Linked DNA regions of Homo sapiens: all the other regions are linked to region 2. The links come from fine-mapping of genetic effects on gene expression. A gene starts in region 2. Each other region holds a variant in brackets. All regions are shown on one strand. Distances are between the middles of the regions.

Region 1 (6,943 bases), 52 kb after region 2:
TACTCACTCAGCCACTCTGGAACTAAATATCCTTGTCTGCAAAATGTGGGTGGTGGTATCTGTGCCCCCTTCCTAGGCTGCTGTGGGGCTGGTCCTGAAAGCCTGGGCCCTGGCTGGGCTGTTCCTGACTCTGATCCCACCAGGCCTGAGACACCTGGGCTGACTCAGGGGTGAGGGCAGTGGAGGGGCAGGGGCAGCCATGCTCCAACAGTAGAAGGGGCCTGTTATGACCTGTCATGTGGTGTGGGGCAGCCACTCTTTCTCCGACCCAGGGGTGCCTCCGCCTGCAGGATGGGACTCTGAGGGGCCGCAGGTGGAGGGCAGGCGCTGACTGAGCCTCTGCTTCTGTTGCAGATGAGCCTTCCTTGGCGGAAATGGGCCCGGCCAATGGCCTCTACGGGAGCTTGGGGGAACCCACCCAGGCCTTGGGCCGGCCCTCGGGAGCCCTGGGCAACTTCTCCCTGGAGCATGGAGGCCTGGCAGGCCCAGAGCAGTACCGAGAGCTGCGTCCCGGCAGCCCCTACGGTGTCCCCCCATCCCCCGCCGCCCCGCAGAGCCTCCCTGGCCCCCAGCCCCTCCTCTCCAGCCTGGTGTACCCAGACACCAGCTTGGGCCTTGTGCCCTCGGGAGCCCCCGGCGGGCCCCCACCCATGAGGGTGCTGGCAGGGAACGGACCCAGTTCTGACCTATCCACGGGGAGCAGCGGGGGTTACCCCGACTTCCCTGCCAGCCCCGCCTCCTGGCTGGATGAGGTAGACCACGCTCAGTTCTGACCCAGGCCCGGCTCCACCCTGCACCTCACACGAGGGAGCTGCCCCTGGGTGGGCGGCTCGGGGCTGCTGGGGTTTCCGAGGAAGTGGGGCCAGGGCGTCAAGGGAGGGCTGGTGCCTTCGGAGCCTCCCACTGCCGACCGCACAGCTCCCTCTCTGGGGGCTGAGGGACCCACCTGGCCCCTCCTCTGACACAGGGCTGGCCCGCCAGGTGGCCTCCCAGCAAGCCAGCCTTTTTTGTAAGCAAATTTCTCCCCTTTATTGACCAATTAACTGAGCACTTGCTGCTATTTCTAGACATGAAATGTCACCTTGCTGAGGCCCAGCCCAGCCCAGCATAGCCCGAGGGCTGGAAAAACGCTTTCATCTCTAAAACTGAGAAATCATCATAATTGTGCTTTCACTTCCCAGGCTCCATGTGTCTTGGAGCCGTCACCCCGAGGCTCCCTCTTTAGGTCGGAGATTGGCCTTGCCTGTCGAGGCAAGAGGCTGCAGAGGCGGGGACACACCTGTGTCCTCCGGGAGAGGCCCCCTCCTCTCCCCAGACCACAGGGGGCCTCTCTGCCTCCAGCCCCACCTTCCCCGGGAGAAGCTTTCCCCAATCCCCAGGTCTCTAGATCATTCTGTTCTCGAGTATCCTGTGGAGGAGGCAAAAATGCCTGGCGCCCCTTCTCTCCAAGCTCAATTCTCTAAGCCCCTCAGGGTCTCCTCCTCACCCCACCCCAGGCCCTTGGTGTCCAGGCTGCACCCACAGATGTCTGTTGCCAAACAGCCTGCCCTCCCTGCCGGAGCCGGCTCTGCCAGCCCCAGATTGGGAAGTCTCCCCGCTGGAGAAGGGTGGGGCTCCTCTGAGCCTGCCCTGCCTCCTCCATCAGATCCTTTGGGAAGAAGTTTCTGGGAGATGCCCGCAGCTGTGCGTGCCCCAGACACAAAGGCTGGCCTGTGTGTAAGTCAAAGTCACTCCCGCAAACCTGAATCTCGAGCTACCTATTGGTTCTGTGAATGTTCTGTGTCTTTTATTTATTCTCGGGTGATCAGCTCTTTCCAAGACTTCAATAAATTTGTCAGTTACAGTCAATGGAAGGCCCGCGTTTTTTTGAGGCTGCGGGGGTTGGGGAGTGTTGGGTGTGGGGAACATTCTGTGAATGTTGAGAGGCAGCCCTGGAGGGGCCCTGAGTCCCCCTAGTTCGTTGCTTGGGCTGGCACCTAGTATGAATTTGGGCTCTCTTTATCCCTGGATCTTGGCCATGCTCATGAGCACTGGAAGGAGGTGGGGGGAACAGCCCATCCCTTCCTGATGGAGGGGAGGGGTTGCGGTCTCCACACCCTGTCCCTGGGAGAGGCAGGGGTTGGGATGTCCAGAGAGCATGATGGGGGTGGGAGGTGGGCCGTGTGTGCCATTCACAGCTTGCAGCTGGCACCAACCCCAGGACATAGGCTGGTAGGGTGACCAGGCTCATGGTCATGGAAGTCTCTCCAGCTTGGATTCCAATCCTGGCTCTTCTAACTTGCTGTGTGACCCTGGGCTGGGGGCTGGAACCCTCTGAGCCCTGCTTCCCCGTCCCCACCCCCCAACCCCCCCAACCCCGCCGCCGCCGTAAAGAGAAGACAGTGATGACAGTCCCCTCAGAGGGCAGAAAGAAGTTGTATGCGCCCCACCCCCACCCCCAGGTAAGTGCTCCTATAGGGGCAGTGGTAGAAGCAGGCAGGGTTGGCCCTTCCACCTCGGCCTTCCCTCCTGCAGGAAGGAGGGCTGGGCCTCCTCCCTGAGGGTCTCTTCCTCTGAGGGGGTCTCCCTGGAGCAGAGTGGGGGCTGGAGGGAGGAGGCCCCTTGGAGCCTGGGCTCCCTATTTCTCAGTGGACGGGGAGGGAAGGTGGAGGAGTCCCCATGCCTTTCATGGGGACCTTTGCACTGGCCTCAGTTCCCCCAGTAAGGGTGCGGAGGCCCCTCCAGAATGTGGCCAAGGGAAGCTGCTCTGAGCTGCAGACTTCCAAGTCTCTCCAGGACCAGCCATCTTTTGGGGGGAACTGGTTGGGACCAGTTGTGTGGTTTTTTTTTAAATGGAGTTTTGCTCTTGTTGCCCAGGCTGGAGTGCAATGGCGTGATCTCCGCTCACCACAACCTCCGCCTCCTGGGTTCAAGCGATTCTCTTGCCTCAGCCTCCCAAGTAGCTGGGATTACAGGCGCGCAGCACCATTCCCAGTTTTGTATTTTTAGTAGAGACAAGGTTTCACCATGTTGGCCAGGCTAGCCTCGAACTCCTGACCTCAGGTGATCCACCCGCCTTGGCCTCCAAAAGTGCTGGGATTACAGGTGTGAGCCACCGCACCTGGCCAAGGGAACAGTTGTCTTTT[A/G]AGGGACGTCCTTTTCATCGTTTCGGGATGTGTGTCAGGCACATCCTCTTCTGAGTCCCACAGCGGCCTCTCCTCTCAATCTCACAGAAGAGAAAGCTAAGGCCCAGGAAAGGGGAGGGAAGGGAGGAGAGGGGAGGGAAGATGGAGAAGGGGAGGGGAGGGAAGAGTGGGGAGGGAGGAGAGAGGAGGGAAGAAGGGGAAGGGGAGGGAAGAGGGGGAAGAGGGGAGGGCAGCTTGGGAGAAAAGAGCGGGAGACTGTCCTCAGCCATGCAGGCTTGGGCAACCCTGGGGACTGGGAGTGATGGGGCTGGGGCAAAGGACCTCTGAGGAACATCACCGGGAGAAGGTCTGATGTCCAGTCTGCCCTGACCCTGACCTCTGCTGACCTCTAGGCGCCCACAGACCCCAGGTCTGCAGGGCTAAACCGGGCAGGGGCTCTGGCAGGCTCCTGGACCTGTTCATTCCATGAACATTTCTAGAATTGGCTGTGCTCCGCCCAGCGGCCTCTGCCTGTGGGGAGACTGAGGCCCAGAGGAGGAAAGGACCTGTCCTGGCCTGGGTCCCCCCACCCCCCAACCCCCGCTGTGGGGAAGGAGGGGTGCTGACCAGGCGGTCAACGGGGTTTCTGTCGGGTCCTCCCAAGCCCCACCCGCCCTCCCTCCCTCCCTGTGGCGCATGGCCTTCGACCCCCAGGCTCTGGCAGCCACGCTGTGTCTAAGGAGGCACCGAGCACCCCTGGGAAGCGCAGAGACGCGCGGATCACCAGGGCGGTCCCGGGAGGGGAGAAGGGCCCCGACGGCCACTGGGAATGGCGGCAACACTGGAGCCGAGCGTGGAAGCAGATGGGGTTGGACGCGAGGATGGCGCGTGGCGACGGCGACCAGTGCGGGCAAAGGCGCGCCGGCGGGAAAGTGCGAGGTTCGGGGCCGGCCTGCGGAGTCGGTGTCCCCAGGGCAGAGACTCCAGCCAGCGGCCCCGCGGCCAGGGACGGGCGCTGGAGGGACGACCCCGAACTCTCCGGGGGCAACGGGCAGCCCGCGGGGAAAGCGGCTCCGGGCCCAGGTCGAAGGCGGAATTTAGGGAGGGGGCGCGGCCGCCGGGGTGCAGCGCGGGCTGGCGGGGGGCAGCCCCGAGGAGGGGGCGCAAATCCCCCAGCCGCGCCCCCACCCCGCCCCGGCCTCCGGCCCCTCCCCCAGGCCGCCCGGGACCTTTTAGGCGCTGACAGGTTAATAAAGTGCCGACTGTTCCCGCGGGGACCCCGCCCGCGCCCGCTCCAGCTGGCGGCGCGTCGATAATCCCGGAGCCCGTGGCCGCCCCCGACACCGCCCTGGCCGCCGCGGGGAGGGGAGCGGGGCCTGCGGAGGCGGCCTCGGCGATGGGAGACCCGCGGTGCCCTGGAGAGCGCGTCTGCGTGACCTCGCCGGCCTCCGGTTCCCGATCGGAGCGCAGCGCGCGCCGCTCTGGCCGTACCCGGTTCCGCCCCGCGCGGGCCTGGGGGGAGCCCTGTGACCTCCCCGCGCCCCAGGGACAGAAACGCGGGCTCCGACCTCCTCCGGCTCCTGCTCCGTACCCGCGAGGGCGAACCCAGAATCAGACTTCGGGCCGCGGCCCCCACCCGGACCCCCGCCAGGCCGGGGGACGCCCAGCCAGAGCTGCAGACCTCGGGCGGAGAGAGACCTTGGGCCGCGGGGCTGTCTGCGGGCTCTGGGCTGCAGCGAGGTGAGGGGAAGGAGAAGGCGGACCCCTCATCCTCCCTGGGTCCGAGCCCCCTTCCTTCCAGGGTGGAGACGCCTTCTCGCGGACGGTGGAAGCTTTAGCCGCGCGCCTGCGGGTTGTCAGCCCCGAATTCGGGGTTCCTGGCGCCCAGTCTCCCCGCGGAGCGGGAGGTGCGGGGGCAGGTCGAAGGCTGATGTCCCCCCCCCCCCGCGGCTGGGGTCTCCCGGTCTCGGACCCTGGTGGGGCGGCGGGTGAGGCAGGGCCGGGGCCGCAGTGGGAGAGGGGTCGTCCGGGCGCGGGGAGACCCCGAGATGGGACCTGCCCGGCTCTGCTGGCGTCGCTGGCAGAGGGAACCCGGAGGGCGAGGGCTCTGCGCAGCCCGGGGTGCAGGGAGCCGGGGCCGGGGTCATACTCCCCGGCACGCGTTCTGTCTTTTTTTTTTTTTCCCGCTCGTTGGGGTCCCGACCCGAGAGGCAGCGGGGTCGCTGACCAGAGAGGACCGACCCTTGCCCAGGACCCCATCCCCCTTGCAGCGGGGGCGGGGCTGGGGGTGGCACAGGGCTCTGGGTGGCGTCCCCTTGGCGGGACGGGGGAGGAGCTTGCTAACTTTGAATCTGGCAACTGTATTACATCATCCAACTTAAATATCTGAATAATAAAGTAATTTCAACCAGCACATTAAAAGGGATTATTTTCTCTTAAATATGAAATTCATACGAAGAGCTGCTTTTAGCCCGAAGGACCTTCCCGAATCAGGGGATGCCTTAGAAGTCACAGAGGCACCCCTCCCTCTCCCTAAGAGCAGGGACACCCCCTGCCCTCCCCTCCTCTCCCTCCTCACCATCTGCCGGCAGGTCCAGCCCCCCTCCCCAAGGGTGGACAGGAGCGGGTGGGGGCCCAAATCCCCGGGCTTGCCTGGCCGAGTAGCAGCCCTGATAAATCAGAGGTTTTTCAGGGGAATCAGCCTGCAGCGCTAAATCCCAGGGGCTGTAATGATCAATTCTTTAAGCCCATAATTGTTTAAATTACTCTGAGCAACATAAAACATTAATTTTAAGAAATTTAATAGAAAAAAGCTCTTTAAATCCACAACGAGATAAATGACACCCAGTATGGCGACCTTTTTCCATACCTTGGTGACATTGAATAATCTGAAAGTTATTTACATTTTCATCCTTCGTGGAAAATGTTGACAAGCTTTTGGCCGTGGGCGAGGTGCGTGGTGGCTCCGGAGCGCCCCCTCCCCCCTAATTAATGGGGGAGCAGTGACTTTATAAGCAGAATTTTCATCAGTCTGCCTGTGCGACCTCGGGTGACGGCTCCCACCCTCCTGGAGCTGATGCAACTGCCGGTCATTTTTTACCATAAAAATATTCTGTCCTGGCCAGCGGAGCCCCCTCTTGGCATTCAAAAGTAGGTGTGAGACGAAGACGCAGCTGTCACATTCAGGGTGTAGGATGGAGCCCAAGGCCAAACCTAGGAGAAGACTCCTGATTCTGCAGCCCCCGGGCAGAGTCTGCCCTGCACGTGCGCGTGAGAGGCTGCAGTGCTGTGGGGGGCGGCCCTGCCTGGGAGCCACAGGCCCCAGATGCCGCACAGCCCTCCAAACCCAATTCCACACACTTCCCCCTACACCATCCTGGGGTGCCATCTCAGGAGGGCTGGGGTCCCCCAGGTCACATCGTCGGGGCTGGGTGGGTCCAGGAGCCGGGGAGCCACGGTGGGATGCCCTGGGCAGAAAAGGCCCCAGAGCACTGGCTCGGGAGAACTGGCTCCTCATCCTTCTTATCCATGCTACTCACTGGCCACACTGTGTGACCGTGGACAAGCCGCTCAGCCTCTCTGAGTCTGTGAAGAGCAAGTACAATCTCCTTCCCAGGGTTACCATGGGGCTTGAGGAGGCAAAGCCTGGGATGGGTGGGTAAAGGGCACACCCACTCCGACCTGCACACCCACATCTGCTCATCCACACGCTCATCGCTCTCCAAGAGGTCACACACCCACTGCACGGTACACACACAAACATCCCCCACGCTCTCCCAGAGCGTAAGTGCGGGAGGTGGTGGTTGGATTGGAACTAGACCGTGGCGATGGTTGCACAG
Region 2 (8,025 bases):
TTTATTGCTGACCCTTTTGGATTTATGAGGCCGTGTGAGAGGAATTATGTATCTCACACACACGCATCTGGCATGACGATAAATCTCCACCACTGAAGCCCCGCAGATTTGCAGCGAATCTGATGGCTCCCAGGCTCGCTGCCACGTGGTTGGTGCTGACGTGCGGCGCAATGCGGTGGCGGCTGCAGTCACAGCTGGAACCAGCGTGACTTTCCCTGGGAGCCCAGCAGGTGCCTCGCGTCGCTGGCAGGTGGTAGGGTGCCCTTGAAGGGGGCTGGTCGTGAGGAACGAAGGAAAACCCGGGCCAGGGCTTCCAAGGACAGCGGCCCTGGAGGGGGCCGGAGCCGTCAGGTTACTCTGAGCACCGGAGAAAAAGCCGCTTCAGCAGAGGTGTAAACGCATTTAATCTCCCAACAGGACATATACAGAGCGGAGGGCTTTGGCATTCAGATATATTGACCGGGCAAGATGGTAATCCAAGGTTCCTCCCCTTCAAGGTCTCCTGCTGTATTTGCCTGGGCTCTGATCTGTCGTCACCGCTTGGGCCAATAAATCTTGATACCAGCCTCCAGAGAAGTCATTATCTTTCATAGAAAATGATTATTTCTCAGTTAAACCCTACATTTAATTTTCCCGTGATCTGTCTCTTTCAGCTTCCCTGCTTAACGGTTCCCTCCTGCATAAAATGCCCATGAACGTGTCCGCAGTGCTCCGAGTCCCAAATCATCAGACAAACTTTACGAGTCCCTTTGATTCCCTGCCCTGCGTGGCCATCACGGCCACCCTCATAAAACACGCATGAAGGCCGGGGGCCCTTTATGAAAGGTGGCGGCCGCACACTTTCCTGGGAAGCAAAGCCTCCAGGCACCCAGGGCGCTGGGAGAGCTCACTCACTGCCCAGGCGGAGCAGGGTCCCTGCGGGTCATTTTCTCTGTCCCCAGGGTCGAGCTTGGCCCGTTCATGCCCAGCAAAGCCAGGCTCACAAGCCGTCCTTTTCCCAGCTCCCCAGGCAGCTTTGGGGTCCTGGAAGAGTGTTGGCAGGTCCCACAGCCATCCCATGGTGCCCTGTCCCCGCATGGCAGCATCAGAGCTGGGAGCGGAGGATGGGATCACACACACCCCCTGGCCCTGGCCCTGCCCCGGGGCTCCCAGCCGCCCTTCTCCTGCCCGCCACTCACCATGTCCATCAGGCTGTAGCCGATACAGCACCAACCACACTGGTGCTGGGAGCCAGCTCGGGCTCTGAGGCTGCCTGGGCCCTGCTCCACCTCTCCCTAGGGGTCTGGCAGGAGCCCCTGCCCCCAGACGTGCCTCCATGTCCACAGTCCCTGGAGGGTGGCCACCCACCTCCTCATGGTGTCCTAGTGAGGACATGAAGAATTGTTCCCTCAGGCACTGTCCCGGGCACGTCGCCAGTGCTCAGGGGCTGGCACAGGTGTGCAGAATTTTTCCTCAGAAGTTTTCCCAAAATGGGTGGTGGTCGTTAAGCAGCTGAGCCCTCCATGCCAAACTCCTGCTAAAGGGGGAGACGTGGACAGCAGGGCAAGTCCTGGAGCCGGGGCCATTGAAATCCATTGGGCCTCATCTCTGCTCTCCCCATGTGGAAAGGGAGGCGGCTCAGAGCTGGGTTCTGTCTTTGTCTCCAATGCAAGCATCAGAGTGGGCCCTCCTGGGTTCTGGGAGGCACGTGGGCCTGAGGCCCTCCTCTCTGTCACATACATGCCATGTGCCCTTCACCTCACACAGTAGTCAGCCCTCTGAGCCTCAGTTTCTCCCTCTGTAAAACAGGAATATCAATACCTGTTCCACGATGGGTAGGCCTCTGCAAACCTGCCCCAAAGATGGAGGAGGCTGAGAGGCAGAAGAAAGAGGCTGACAAGTCCAGTTTCTCAGGAAGAAACATTTAGTAGGGACTTACAAATGGAAGCCACATCTGTGTCTCTGGAGGCACCGACAGACGGGATCCCGCCACCACCCCCAGGCCCAGGGCTTATCTGCCATAGGGGAGGCTGGTTTAGAAGGAACGTGCAGAAACCTGAAGCAGACAGCATCAAGGCTTTGTGCCCTAAGGGTGGGATTTACGGCAAGTACCTGCTCTACACAGGGAACAACAGATCAACTGGAAATCTTGGAGGCCTTCCCGGAATCAGGCTCATCAGGATCCAACACAGCAGATTAGGTCCAAGATGCTGCTGCCTCAGCCTGCACAGTGCCTTATCTCATCATGTCTGAGATGTGATCTCCCCGCATTTTGATCTCTTTGAAGCCAGAGCTGTCTCTGTCAGGGCATCTGAAAATGGCCACTGGCCGCGTGTTTTCTCGCTCCGCGGCACGCACGCTAACCGCGCCTGCAGTCACCTGGCCTTTGCCACAGCGACGTGCGATGCCTCTCCTGCAGGTGGGGTGGGGGGCAGATTTCACGCAGGCTTTGGGCAGGATCTGGCTCAGCACAGACAGCTCTTACGTAGACTCCGAGATTCAATCCTAACCCCTTCCCCTCCCCCGCCCTGCCTTAGATGGGAGAAACTCTGGTTGTTTTGGGGTGTGGCCTCTAAGTGCTGGGCTAAGCTTGGTCCCAGGGGTGGCTCCGTTTCACCGAGCAGGTTTGGGGTGAGGTGTTGCCCCGATGTTCCGAATGTGCCCCTCCAGTTGGGCTCATGACGTCCTCTGTCTCAGCCAGATCAGCCTCCTTTCCTCCACTCCTTGTTCCCCTGCCACCTCGCTGCTGCTCCTTCTGGAGGCCTGGGGCTCAGTGTGTGGCCCTCCCCTCTGTCCCACAGCCTCCCCGGGGGACCTCAAGCAGCCTCAAGCGCTGAGCTCCAGACTCGACTCCCACTTCTAAACCCTGACCTGACACCTCCCTTAGAGGTTGAAAAGGCTGCTCAGATGTAACAGGTCCAAAGCAAACTCATGGCATCCTCCCCAGCATAGCTCTCCCATCTCGCCGCTGCAGGATTTAGTCTCAGCCGTAAGCAACCCCATTCCTCTGGTTGCTTTGGCCCAAACTCTGCGAATGTGACACCCTCTGCCTCCACCCAGACTCAGCCGACCCCTCCACCAGCACTGCCTCTCACCCCTCCCCGGAGTCCCTCCAGCTTGTGGAAGGAGGCGGCGGCCCCTCCCAGGTCCCCTGCTTCCCCTCCTGCCCCTCCTACTCTGCAACTAGAAGGGCAGAGCTGCATCCTTGCACCGATCCTTCCGTGGCCACCCCCCCATTCAGCATCAAAGTCTGAGTCTGCGGCCCAGGTTGTGAGGCCCCCTGGGTCTCGCTCGGGCTCTCAGCTTTTCTTCCCTCCCACGCTTCCCCCAGCTTGCTCCGCTCCCACCAGGTCCGGCTCCTTGCTGTTCCTCCAGCGTGCTCAGCACCCTTCTGCCCCAGGGCCTTTGCATGTGTGCCTCCTCCCTCACCTCCTTCTCCATTCGGGTCACCTTCTCAAAGACCTCCCCACCCTCCTCTGTACGGCAGCCCTGCTGGCACCTGCTTCCGTGTCCGGCTTCATTGCTTTTCATAGCACGCGGTGGCTGCTTTACGCGTTGGTTTGTTTGGGGTCTGCCCAAATGCAGGCCAGGGACACTGGGGGCTCGGTTTTGTTCTTGATTTGTCTCCAGGGCTTGGCACAGAGCAGAAGCCAGGAAACGTGGGTGATGGAAGGAAACATGAACAGGGAGACGCAGGACGTGAGGAAAAGGGAGCAGACGCCTTGGCCAGGGGCCCTCTGGGGAGAATCCTCTCATCTGGGGTTAACCATTGTTAGCAGCAAAACCTTTTAAACAAAATCTTACACAGAACCCCACAATACAGTTATCTATTTATTTTGAGACAAGGTCTCGCTCTGTCATCCAGGCTGGAGTGCAGTGGCAGAGTCACGGCTCACTGCAGCCTCAAGCTCCCAGGCTCAAGCCATCCTCCACCTTAGCCCCTCAAGTAGCTGGGACTACAGGTGTGCACCACCATGCCCGGCTTTTTTCTTTTTTTTAAGAGATGGGCTCTCGCTATGTTGCCCAGGCTCGCCCACTCCCTTGTTTTGTTTTGGTCACACAGTTCAGAGAAAATCTTGACATGTGTAAAAATTAGGAATAGGAACAAAAAAAAAAATCAGGTATCCTGTTCAATGAAGCAAAAAAGTCATATGATTTCATTTCCAAACCGTGAAGCTGCATTCGACTGGAACATCCTAAAAGGTAGCACACAACACATCTGACTTTGAGTGGATGTTTTGCTGCATTTTCTAAGCGTTCCAATATCATATTAAAAAGTCGAGGCTGGCTTGCAGACCCTCTGAAGCCCCAGGTGGGGTTGCCAAGTAAAAGAACCCCGGAATAGTTTTTTACGTCTAAGAATGTCTTGTTAAATTTGTATTTCAGGCATGGCACAGACCTAGGCTGAAAAACCGACTCACTGTTTGTCTGAAATTCACGTTGAACCTGGCGTCGTGCACTTCCATTTGCTAAATGTGGCCACCTGGCCCTGTTCAGGGAAGGGGTTTGGGGAACGCGCGGCGGGGTGGGGCGGGGCCTGGGCGGAGCCTGCCGCGCCTGGGCGGGGAGATGGCGTCATCAGACTCTTGGGGGCGGGGCTGCCACGCATGGGCGGGGGCGGGGGCGGGGAGAGAGGGCGGGGTCAGACGTGAGGGGGCGGGGCGGAACAGAACTGGGCGCGCGGGGGCGGGGCCGGGCGCGCCGGCGCACGTGACGGTGGTTGCCAGGGTGAAAGTTCAGCGCGCCGGCGGCACTTCCAACATGGCGGCGGCCGGGGCGGCGGTGGCGCGCAGCCCGGGAATCGGAGCGGGACCTGCGCTGAGAGCCCGGCGCTCGCCCCCGCCGCGGGCCGCACGGCTGCCGCGGCTGCTAGTGCTGCTAGCGGCGGCGGCGGTGGGGCCGGGCGCGGGCGGTGCGGCGCGGCTGTACCGCGCGGGCGAGGACGCCGTGTGGGTGCTGGACAGCGGCAGCGTGCGCGGGGCCACCGCCAACAGCTCGGCCGCGTGGCTCGTGCAGTTCTACTCGTCGTGGTGTGGCCACTGCATCGGCTACGCGCCCACTTGGCGGGCCCTGGCTGGGGATGTGCGAGGTGAGGCGCGCCCCCGCGCGGGGACCCCCCGACCCCCGGGACCGCGGCCTTCCGGGACCCCTTGCGACCGCCCCAGAAGGCGGGTCCCGGGGCCCCTCCCCCGTATTTCTTTCCTTACCGCAGAGCCAGTCCCTGCCCCACAGAGGCACCCGACTCGGACCAACCCTGGCCTTTCCAGGGGCGGGAGACTAAGCCAGCTGCTCCCCATGTCTCTCCCAGTTAATCCCCGTTAGATCCTGACGAGTTGGGCTGTCTGAAGTCAAAATGAAACCATTCTCCCGCAGCCCTCACCGCACGCTTGGGGATAGGGAAGCCCTCCCGTATCCCAGCTCTCAAAATACCTATGTTTTGAGCCCCAAGAACTTCATTGACCTTCCAGGCCTCCTACCCTACCTGTTTCCTAGCGTCCACACACCCCATCCCCAGTGCCCAGAATTCCTGTTCTCTGAGGATCCCTCATTCCTATTCCACACTCGTAGCCACCCCATTCCCTTTGAACCTTCATCATTAACTTTCTGGTTCGGATCGCTGGCCATATAGTGGGTGCTCAAAGTGAACCCACAACTTAGAAGTCCAAATACTCTGGAGACTTCTCTATAATACCCCAAAACAACCTATAAAGCAATTTTTTTAACTCTACAAAGAATTTCATTGGTGGGCTCCTTGATCACAGATGCACAGCCTTTGAGAAATCTTTCACCAAACTGCTGGTAGTGTTCCGCACTTTATTGTTTAGTGCTTTCATCTGGTCGCACGTTGTTAACCAGTCACGAAGTTACTCGCCTGCTCTACAGGTTAGAGTTGGCGTGGGAGGGGGCATTCACAACACCCTTCCCTTAAAATGGTATTTAAATCACTGAAGTAGGAGGTCCTCCCGACCCAGTGAGGTTTGGCAGGACTTCCTGTGTTGTGCTAACCTCAAATTACATGTTTCAGTGGGCAAGATCTGTAACAAATTGCTACTCTTTCTTCCTGCACCTTTGTTTTTATGCCTTACACCCAATCCTGCTGTATTTTTCTCATCGCAAACAGATTTGTAAAGAAACTTTTTTTCAAGTCTAAGTAGGGCTTTTGTATGTTACTGTAAATGGTTATCTTTAAAATGCATTCTCCTCTTAGAGAGCTGGGGCCTTTTGATTCTAATGGATTCCTCCTCTTTGATCTCATGTTTTCTTATGTCCCTGTTGACCTGACTCAGAACTGAGGTCAGAGACTGGAAGAGATGGACAGAAAAACTGTTCAGTGGGGTTTTTAGACACTGCTTTTAGGAAAACAAACAAGTAATTCAATCACGTAGGGAACCCTTCAGTTCTTGTGTGTTATTCAGTGGCAGAAACAGATATGTTCATTAAAATGCAGGTGGCCCTGGCAGGACTTGGTCACTTTTTTTGTGGGTTTTGGTTTTGATTTTTTTTTTTCAGTTGAGTCGCTGAAGTCTAAAGATCGTACCAGATTCAAATATTGCAAATTCTGTAACCGAAGCAGCACATAGGCAGCCTTGAGAACTGTCCCTGGAGCTCAGAAGGAAGGCCCCTCCTGAGAGCCACACAGTAACGTCCATACCCAGTGGTGTGATGAACTCAACTCAGTAAGCCTCCTTTAGTGAGGCTGACTGTCTTCCCAGTCACGACAGGAAGAACAGGCTTGTGCCTGAGACTGAGACTGGAGGAGGATATGGCTGAAAGTGAAAGACAGCGGTGACCTGACCAGGCAGCAGGGAGAGGGCTTCAGGGAGCCCAGGCAGAGGGTCCTGTTGGCTAAAAAGCCAAACTATAAAATACTGAAAGAGGTTTGTTCTGAGCCAATAAGTGTAGTGGCCATGGCCAGGGGAACAGTGTCAAGAGGTCCTAAGAAAGTGTGCTCTAGGCAGTCACGTTAATTTGATTTTATACATTTTAGGGAGACAGAAGTTATAGGCAGAGAGACATAAATCAGTACATGTAAGGTATAGGAAGGGGTAGGTTTACAGATCATAGGTGGATTCTGACTGGCAATTGATTGAAAGAGTTAAGCTTTGTCTAAAGACTTGAAGTCAGCAAAGAGAAATGCTTGAGTTAAGCTAAAGGGGCTGTGGAGGCCAAGGTTAAGTAGATGAAGCCTCACAGGCAGCAGCCTTGGGGAGAATAGAGGGTAAATGTCTCTTTTCAGACCTGAATGCTGTCAGACTCGTTAAATGTCTCCTAGATCCAGGAAAGACCTAGAAAGGGAGGGAGATTCTCTACAGATGCAAATTTCCCTCACAAAAGACAGCTTTGCAGGACCATTTCAAATATGTCAGGGAAATAAATGTATTTGGGGGTGAAATATTTTGATTTCCTGCAGGGTGTGCTATTTGTCATGTGGTGCTGTACCCGAGTCAGGCTGGAGTTTGGTGTCGTTGCTGCTGAGGCTGTGCTGTCTGTCTGTGATCTCTGTTTCATCACGCTGGTCAGCTCTGCCTAAACTCCAAAGGGAGGTGATGTAACCAGGCGTGTCTGACCTCCCTTGCCGTCAGGGCCTGGAATTTCTTTCCTCAGGTTGCCCTGGGGTCTCCTTGGCCAAGAGGGGGTTCAATTCAGTCAGTTAGGGGACTCAGGATTTTATTTTTGGTTTACAGTCCTGAGAGCCAAGCTGTGCCCATGAGGCTTGTGGGAGGTAGAGTCCGGGTAGAAAGGGATGAAAGGCCCTTGGCACTGAGGAGTCCCCGGAGCTGTTCTAAGGCTGGGACTCTCAAAGTAGGGCCACTTAGGGCCTTGTTAGAAATGCCTGCTTCTCCACAGCCCCAGCCCAGACCTGCCAGCTCAGAACTGTCTGCTTGGCGCCTGGCTCCCTGTCTGTCATCCCTGCGTGGAGCTGTCCCACAGGGATAGGGCGCCCATTGCCCGTGGCAGTGCAGGGGTCTGGCTGCATGCAGGCATTCCCGTTGTCAACATTCTCATGTTTTCTTATGTCCCTGTTGACCTGACTCAGATCAGTCA
Region 3 (8,025 bases), 28 kb after region 2:
CCACACGCGGGACGGGAGTGCGAGGCCGTGGGGTGTGGCTGCTGTGTGCAGGGACTCACTTGACCAGTATCAGTGTTGTGGGGGGCGCGCTGGTTTTAGAAAGTCAAGTGCAAATTCGCGGATAAGTGTTTTCTTTGATGAGTTTGTAAAATTGCCGAATAAGACCGTGGTTTCTGCTCATGGCGTGTGTGCCGTCAGTTGCCTTAAAGTGCAATGAGAGTGAAGATTTGAGTGAGGGTCTTGCCTGCAGGGGGACAGACTTCATGCCCTTTTGTGAAAGGTTCCCTGCAAGGCCATGTGTCTGCACGTCGTGTTTTCTGAGAAACTGCCAGCCCCTGTGGAAGTGTCATTGTGTTCTCATCCCCCAGGTGATCTTAGACCTGATCCCGTATGAAAGCATCGTGGTGACCCGAGCACTGGACGGGGACAAAGCATTTCTGGAGAAACTTGGTGTTTCTTCAGTCCCTTCGTGTTACCTGATCTACCCAAATGGGTCGCATGGATTGATTAACGTGTGAGTGCCCGGGTGGGGTCTGGGAACTCCGTGCCGCTCGGAGTTACCGGACAGAGGCTCCGAGTAGACAGTGCAAGTCTGGTGTGAGATCGGGGGAGCCCTGGCCCCTCCGCCTCGCTTCCCTGGGCAGATTTGGGCCCTGGCTCTCAGCCCGTGGGTATTGCTGATCTGTGCTGTGTTTTCGTGGATTTCTGTTTTCTCACTGCTGTGTCCCCGCACCTAGGAGGAGCCTGGCGTGGTGACTTACCAAGAGTCGCAGAGGAAACCGTGGCTAAACCAGCACATGCATGAGGGCTGCTGGGCCGGGGCTTTGGGAGCAGCCGATGCTCCTAAAACCCTGCTCTGGGTGGACTCTTGGGATGCAGTTTGGGTCTGTGTCTGGGGCTGGCAGACAAGCCCACGTGCCCACCTCTGCAGAATGAGAAGTAGGGGTGGGCACCAGGCCCTGCCCCTCACGTTCTGCTCTTTCTCTAAGAACTGCAGAACCTTGGCAAGCCCTTTGCCTCTGCGTGGGGTGCCCGTGTGCCCCTCATGAGGATAAGCCCTTCGCCCCTGCGTGGGGTGCCTGTGTGCCCCTCATGAGGATAAGCCCTTTGCCCCTGCGTGGGGTGCCCGTGTGCCCCTCATGAGGATAAGCCCTTCGCCCCTGCGTGGAGTGCCTGTGTGCCCCTCATGAGGATAAGCCCTTTGCCTCTGTGTGGAGTGCCTGTGTGCCCCTCATGAGGATAAGCCCTTTGCCTCTGCGTGGAGTGCCTGTGTGCCCCTCGGATAAGCCCAATGAAAAAGTAAACAACTTGAATCAGGTTAGAAAAAGAACAGTGAGAAAAATGAGGCTGGGCACAGGTGAATCATTTGAGTCTAGGAGTTCCAGACCAGCCTGGGCAACATAGTAAGACCCCATCTATACTAAAAAAAAGACTAGCCAGGTCTGGTGGTGTGCCACTGTAGTCCCAGCTACTCAGGAGGCTGAGGTGGGAGGATCACTTGAGCCTCAAAGGTCAAGGCTGCAATGAGCTGAGATCCTGTCACCGCACTCCAGCCTGGGCGACAGAGTCAGACTCCATCTCAAAAAAAAAAGAAAGAAAATGAAAAATGGTTGAGAAAGTTAAGTAACGTCCTGAGGCTGGAGGGGCCCCGCTCCTCCTCACCTTGGGGAGAAGGACAGCGTGAGGAGAAGGACAGCGTGAGGCTAGCCTGCCCTACACTGGGTGGCCCCTTCCCCTGGCCTGAAGTTGCAGCACCTGCAGGCTTCCAGCATGTGCTGGTTTAGCCACGGTTGACTCTGCGGCTCTTGGTGACTCACCACGCCGGGCTCCGAGGTGCAGGGACACAGCAGTGAGAAGATAGGACGTGTTTCCTGTCTCTTGGGGCTTCCAGTTCAGCCTCCTCAAAGATCGACTGGGGCATAGAGGGCGCCTTACAGAAGCCCAGAACACCGCAGTTTCTTAAGTATTTTTCTTTCCTTTTGAAAAAGAGGCCAGGCTCACACCTGTAATCCCAGCACTTTCAGAGGCTGAGATGAGAGGATTACTTGAGCCCAGGAGTCTGAGACCAGCCCAGGTTGATAGTGAGACTCCAGCCTATGACAAATAAAACATTAGCCGGGCGTGGTGGAGTATGTCTGTGGCTACATCTACTCAAGGGGCTGAGGTGGGAGGATCATTTGAGCCCAGGAGGTTGAGGCTGCAGTGAGCTGAAATTGCACCACTGCACTCCAGCCTGGGCAACAGAGAAAGATCCTGTCTCAAAAATAGATAAATGAGTGAAAATACAAAAGATAAAGCTGGAATTCAGGGTAACCACAGAGGCCATTGAGCTTGTTGGGAGATGCTCTGAGTGCTTGGGGGCCTGGCTCTGCCAACGAGGTGGCCCATTCCAGGCCTGGGGCACAGCACTGCACTTGGCAGAGCGGCCTGAACCACTCCCAGATGTTTGTTTAGTGTTAAAAGTATCATCTAGACAACTTCTTAGTGTCAAATAATGTTAATATTTTTATAGATATTTTAATGTTTTTGCAAATAGCACTGCTACATTCTGTCTTTGGAAACAAGCTCCACGTCACACTGAAGTGCTCAATAATGGCATTGAGGGTGTCCTCAGAAGGCAGCTCCACCCTGTCCACACAGCGTGGGCACACAGGGGGCTCAGCTCCACCCTGTCCACACAGGGTGGGCACGCAGGGAGCTCAGGGGCCTGACATCAGGGAGGGGCTGACGTCCACCCCAGGCCCCGACTTCCAGATGCCTCACTCAGGGCTGGCAGATTGTGGGCGCGTCGGTGAAGGCTCTTAGGCGTGTTGGAAATCGCAGTCAGAATAAAGCTCATCTTGGCAGATGCTCAACCCAGCTTTACAAAACGCCTTAAGGTCCCCACAAACATAAATGAGTCATAGTACTTATTACAACTGGAACTGGTTGTAAATCTGTGGATTTGGTGTGTCTCCTCTTATCCCCCAGGTGGAAGCGCAGCCGGAGCCCAGGCGGGGTGTCAGCTGTTCCCACTGACTCCCATGCCCCAATAAATGCCCAAAGGATGAAAGGGGTGGCCCAGAGCTGTCCTGAATGCCACGGCTCCTACTTTAGGATTTTATAAAGGAGGCTCTTCTCACCTTTGCCCTCCCCTCTCTCACAGCGTGAAGCCTCTGCGGGCCTTCTTTTCGTCTTATTTGAAGTCATTGCCGGATGTGAGGAAAAAATCGCTTCCCTTGCCTGAAAAGCCACACAAAGAAGAAAATTCAGAAATCGTGGTTTGGAGAGAATTTGACAAGCAAGTGTTCCTCTTGAACTGAAGCCCCCGGAGACAGTGCGTGTAGACCGAAGGCTGCGTGCTTGCAGGGCGGGTTTACTCAGAAACCCACCCCAGCCAGTGAGGGCCGCTCAGGAGCCCTCCCAGGGGCCCTGGGAGTCCGTGGGGAGGAGCCAGGACAGGGAGACTTGCTGTGGAGGGAAAGGTTGGGCATTCCCTGACGCTGCCATATCCCGTCCTAGGTCGAAGCTGTACACGGTGGACCTGGAGTCAGGGCTACACTACCTCCTGCGGGTGGAGCTGGCAGCCCACAAGTCCCTGGCCGGAGCAGAGCTGAAGACGCTCAAGGACTTTGTGACTGTCTTGGCCAAGGTTTGGGACGGTGCTGGTCTGGGCTGCATGTGGGAATTTGGCTCTGCACAGAGTGGGCCCTGGGGGGCGTCGGACACTGCGGGGGCTCCGCCAGCTCCGCTGAGGTGCTCTCCACCTTGCTTTGTCGCCCAGGCCCACGCCCCAACTCATTCCACCCATTTCCCGAGTGCCTCCTGCGTCCACTGCTGTTCCCAGCACTGGGGCTGGGGCGGTGGGTGTAGAGAGGGGCGGGGGTGTGAGCCGAGCACCTGCTGGAAAAGCCCAGCTCTGGCTGCCTGGAGAGTAGATGGAGGAGGGAGCGGAGGCCCACACACACCTCAGCTGGCTCTCAGAGGAGCGCTGCACGGGGGCTGGGGGGAGAGAGAGAGGGAGAGGCAAGGGCTGTGCAGATCCAGGTGGGGTGTGCATCTGCCCCACCAGCCAGGTTCAGGGAGGGGTCCTGGGAGCTTCACGCTCAGCACCATCACCAGCACAGATGTGGTGTCTGAGACCACTGAGGGGGTCGCCAGGAGCGGGCAGAGATGCCACCCAACAGAGCTCAGGCCTGGCCGTGCCCAGGGTCAGGCTGAAGAGGACCAGCCAGGGAGGTGGCCAGGTGTAACTCCATGAGCTCGGTTGCTTGTTACTGTCTAAATGACAAGAAGGCTTAGGCTTAAAATATTTATCTTGCCAAAAATAAGATGCATGATAGAATAATTTATAGTGAGCACTTTGGATAGAGTTTACTTACAAAGTGATTTGTGAAAAGTACAGGAAATCTTGAAGGACTGGAGGTGCCTCAGATGAATGCATGAACATTGCCCAGGCAGCTTTTTCCCCCACGGTGCCATCCAGAGTTCAGAAATCTCTAGCTGGCCTCATTTCCTTTAAGAAAGTGTCCTGCTAATCTGTCCATCATATTAGTGGAGGACAGTGTGGCTCTTAGTGGTGGTGGCCGCCGGCCAGCTAATTCGCTGGAGTCGCACAGCTGTCGCTAGGCAGACCTGCTCTCCTCTCCC[G/C]GCTTCTCCGTCTTCCCCTTAGTCTAGTTAGGCTTGGAGCTTTTACACTTGTGCTCTGGGCAACTCCTGAGGCCAGGGTATTAATAAGTTATTCTTAATATTTTTCTGAAGTTTACTTGGATGTCTAAAATAAATTTGATTCTGGTAAATTAATCATGGTACTTTTTAACCTGCACGGGAGAAAATATATTGGACTGAGCTGAAGATGCCGGCGTTTCTGGTCTGGCATCGCCACCTGTGAGCTTCAGCTCGGGTTTGAGGAACTCTTTTGGTGGCTGGTGTTTCTGGTCTGGCATTGCCACCCGTGAGATTTCAGCTCGGGTTTTCGGAGCTCTTTCGGCAGCCTATGTTTTGCACAGTTTGTGGTGCAGCAGCTGATCAGAGTTTCTCCTAAAAAGACAGAGCCCTGGGATCTTCTCAGCCAGACGCCTCCCCAAGCTGTGTTGATGTCGGCCAGCCTCACGGCCCACACAAGCCCATAGGCAGTTAGCCCCGGCTGCCGGCGCATGTGCACTGCCGCGCGCCCTTCATACAGTCAGTGACGGCAGAGGGGAAGCCCAGCGGGCGGGCAGGCGGGGTCAGCACAGCTCCTCGTGAGGAAGGCAGAATAAATCAGCAAGCCCCCGCCAGCTCCATGATGAGTCACACACCGTGACCTTGCCTGTCACCTGGCCGGAGCGAGGCCGTGGGCGCAGGTGGGTGAGCTGCAGGCACGGGCTGGAGAAAGGCATGGCCGTGGGCACAGGCTGTCCTGGGGAGAGGCGCAGGCTAGATGCCCACCCCATGGCCCCTTGGGTTTCCTGCCTCCCATCAGAGAAACCCGAGTTATGAGAGGCCCCATCCTAGGTTCAGCCCCTCTGCGGATGGAGTGCTTCTCTTTGGAGGTGCGGTGCCCCCCGCGGTGGGGGCGGGCCCGGGTTTGGGTCTGTAGCTCTCAGGTGGCTCCTTCCTCATGCAGCTGTTCCCTGGACGGCCGCCAGTCAAGAAGCTGTTGGAGATGCTGCAGGAGTGGCTGGCCAGCCTTCCCCTGGACAGGATCCCCTACAACGCCGTGCTTGACCTGGTCAACAACAAGATGCGGGTGAGCCCCAGAACCCTCGCCAGCCACGCTGCACCCTCCTTCCCTCGCCTTCCTTCCCTTGCCCTTAGCTGGTGCATCTCCCTGCTCGGGGCCCGGGCTCCGCTGTGAGGAAGGGGAGCAGTGACTTACTGTCTCCACGACAGCATCATGGCCATGGCCTCCTGTCTGCCTTGGCAGCGTCATGCTGGGACTTCAGTTTAAGGACAGCTCACCAAAAGTGCACTGTGACCACCTGTCCTTTGGACAAAATGGGGTTTTCTCAAGCAACGTAGTAGTTGGGCTTTTTAAATTTTTAGTAAGCCAATCTGACGAAAACTGATGTATTCAGTAAGTGTGGCAGCCTTTCCAGAGCTTTCCCCAAGACCAGGTGCCAGCAGGTGCCAGTCTTTGCTCAGGGGACCAGCACCCCAAGAGGTCCTGGCACTCCGTCCTGCCATTCCCTCCTTAGTCCAGATCAGCAGCTTCTCTGTGGCCCCCAGAGTGTTTACTCGCGGGCAGTAAACCCAGCGTGCTGCTTGTCCGACGCCCGCGTGGTCAGTGCACACAGCAGATCTTCTGGGAATCCTGTAAGGTGCACTTGTCGTGCCGTGATTTTGCCAGCTTTGTCATTTGCTGGCTGCAGCTGAGAAGCAGACGGTGCCGGGCTTCTTGCCTGAGTCTGTCTTCCACCTTGACTCTACTCCGAGCTCGAGGTCATGGGAGCACTCTCACGTGACTGCGACGTGTGACATCTCCCTCGAGAGCACGTCCTGGGCTCAGGAGTCCTTAGGGAGGAAAAGGTTGATGAGACACGAAACCAAACCCAGCGGAATCTGCCTGGGGCTCTCAGCCCTCCCAGTCCAGCAGTCACCCACTCTGATGGCCACCCTATTGCTTTTTCAAAGTGAACACACCTTGTTTGTTCTGGCCAAGAATTATTTGACAGTTGAGCTTTTTTCTGTTGTTAGTTGCCTTTTCTCTTAATACTGTCCTTACAACTAATTCTAATTTAAAAGAAAAGGTGGATACATTTTATGCTTAATATTACTGGTTTATCAAGATACAGAAGAACTGTCTCTTCAGAGATTGGCTTGAGAGCTCCTTTAGTAAAGGAGACCATTTCCTCTCTTTTGTTTTATTGAATTTAAATTTGCATATGGTAGGAGGCACAGATCTTATGTGTACAGTTGATACAGCTTCAGTAAACCACACCCCCATTATCCACCCCCCCCAGTCAAGAAGGCAGCTGTCGACTGTTTTTAATTTCAACAATTATCTTTTATTCTTTGGGGTTTTTTTGTTTGTTTGTTTTTCAGATTTCTGGAATATTCCTTACTAATCACATAAAGTGGGTTGGATGTCAAGGAAGCCGATCTGAGTTGAGGGGTTACCCGTGTTCTCTCTGGAAACTGTTCCACACTTTGACTGTTGAAGCCTCGACCCACCCAGATGCACTGGTTGGCACAGGTAAGCTGTGCCCATACAGGCCAGAGGGGCCGATGGTCTGCCTAACAAGTTAACCCAGCCGGTGTGTGCAAAGGCATGTACTGCTGTATGGGAGGCAGCATGTCGCCAGGCCACTGAGGCAGGGGAATGGCACTTCAGACTCCTCTCACACGGTCAGCTCACCCAGGGCTGTGGCTGCGGGGGCACGAGTTCCCCTTGTCAGAACTCGCAAGGATGTGCATGGCTAACGTGCAGGAAATAAACCATAAAGAAGAAAGAGTGCTGGCTGGGAGTTTCCCTGCAGTGTAAACTCCCTGTTTTTTGCTTTAAAAAGACAGAATAAGTGAAATCTGTTTGGAGAGGTGTTCTCATTATCAGCTGTTGTATAACAAATCACCCCAAAATTTAGCAGCCAGAACCACGGGAACCACGCACGGTTATGAGCTCATGGTTTCTGAGGGCCGGGCATGGCCTCATCTGGGTCCTCTTCTTCAGGATTGGTCAGGCTGCAGTCGGAGTGTCAGCTGGGCCTGGGGGGTCACCCAAGGCCCACCTGGGGAGAGTGGCTTCCCAGCACCCTCATGGGGCAGAGAGCAGGGCCTGCCTCCTTGCACGTGGCTTGCCTAAGGCCCTGAGCTCCATGCTGGCTGTTGACTGCAGGCCACGCTCAGGGCCTCTCCATCGGGCGGCTCACATCATGGCAGCAAGCCTCATCAGCAAGCCAGTGAGAGGGTGCCTATCCGAGGATGATATTCCATCACCTCTGTCAGATTCTGCTTACTAGTCAGTCCCCAGGCCCAGGCCACTCGCAAGGGGAGGACATTACAGGAGGCGTGAGTATAGGTGGTGTGATCTGTGGGGACCGTCGCAGAGGCTGCCCACCACAAGGG

Alleles and levels. Alleles are on the strand shown, and positions count from the first base shown. SD is a standard deviation of normalised expression in the study named. Not every link is listed here.
For the expression in naive CD8 T cells of the gene that starts at base 4,732 in region 2, C is the high allele of the variant in region 3 and G is the other (moderate effect, 0.70 SD a copy in Schmiedel 2018).

The links. PIP is the estimated chance that this variant, and not a neighbour inherited with it, causes the effect.
Region 1: its variant is the best candidate, but not a certain one, in a credible set for the expression of QSOX2 in whole blood (INTERVAL, PIP 0.66).
Region 3: its variant is the best candidate, but not a certain one, in a credible set for the expression of QSOX2 in naive CD8 T cells (Schmiedel 2018, PIP 0.60).

What each region holds. Positions count from the first base shown.
Region 1 is chr9:136,191,155-136,198,097 of GRCh38, reverse strand. LHX3 (LIM homeobox 3) reads left to right here. Exons shown (of 6, transcript NM_178138.6): 6 at 355-1,848. The coding sequence ends at 773. Among named protein-coding and RNA genes, the nearest start is that of LHX3, 11 kb to the left of the region's middle. RefSeq lists enhancers at 1-403, 5,883-6,828, 6,829-6,943. The variant A/G (reference allele first, on the strand shown) is at 3,126.
Region 2 is chr9:136,242,519-136,250,543 of GRCh38, reverse strand. It overlaps QSOX2 (quiescin sulfhydryl oxidase 2), which reads left to right and starts at 4,732. Exons shown (of 12, transcript NM_181701.4): 1 at 4,732-5,068. The coding sequence starts at 4,741. CCDC187 (coiled-coil domain containing 187) reads left to right here. Exons shown (of 26, transcript NM_001378188.1): 26 at 1-571. RefSeq lists an enhancer at 1,843-2,697 and silencers at 4,495-4,764, 4,795-5,204.
Region 3 is chr9:136,214,285-136,222,309 of GRCh38, reverse strand. QSOX2 (quiescin sulfhydryl oxidase 2) reads left to right here. Exons shown (of 12, transcript NM_181701.4): 6 at 369-514; 7 at 3,146-3,280; 8 at 3,502-3,631; 9 at 5,588-5,710; 10 at 7,006-7,156. Among named protein-coding and RNA genes, the nearest start is that of LHX3, 13 kb to the right of the region's middle. RefSeq lists an enhancer at 5,800-6,303. The variant G/C (reference allele first, on the strand shown) is at 4,630.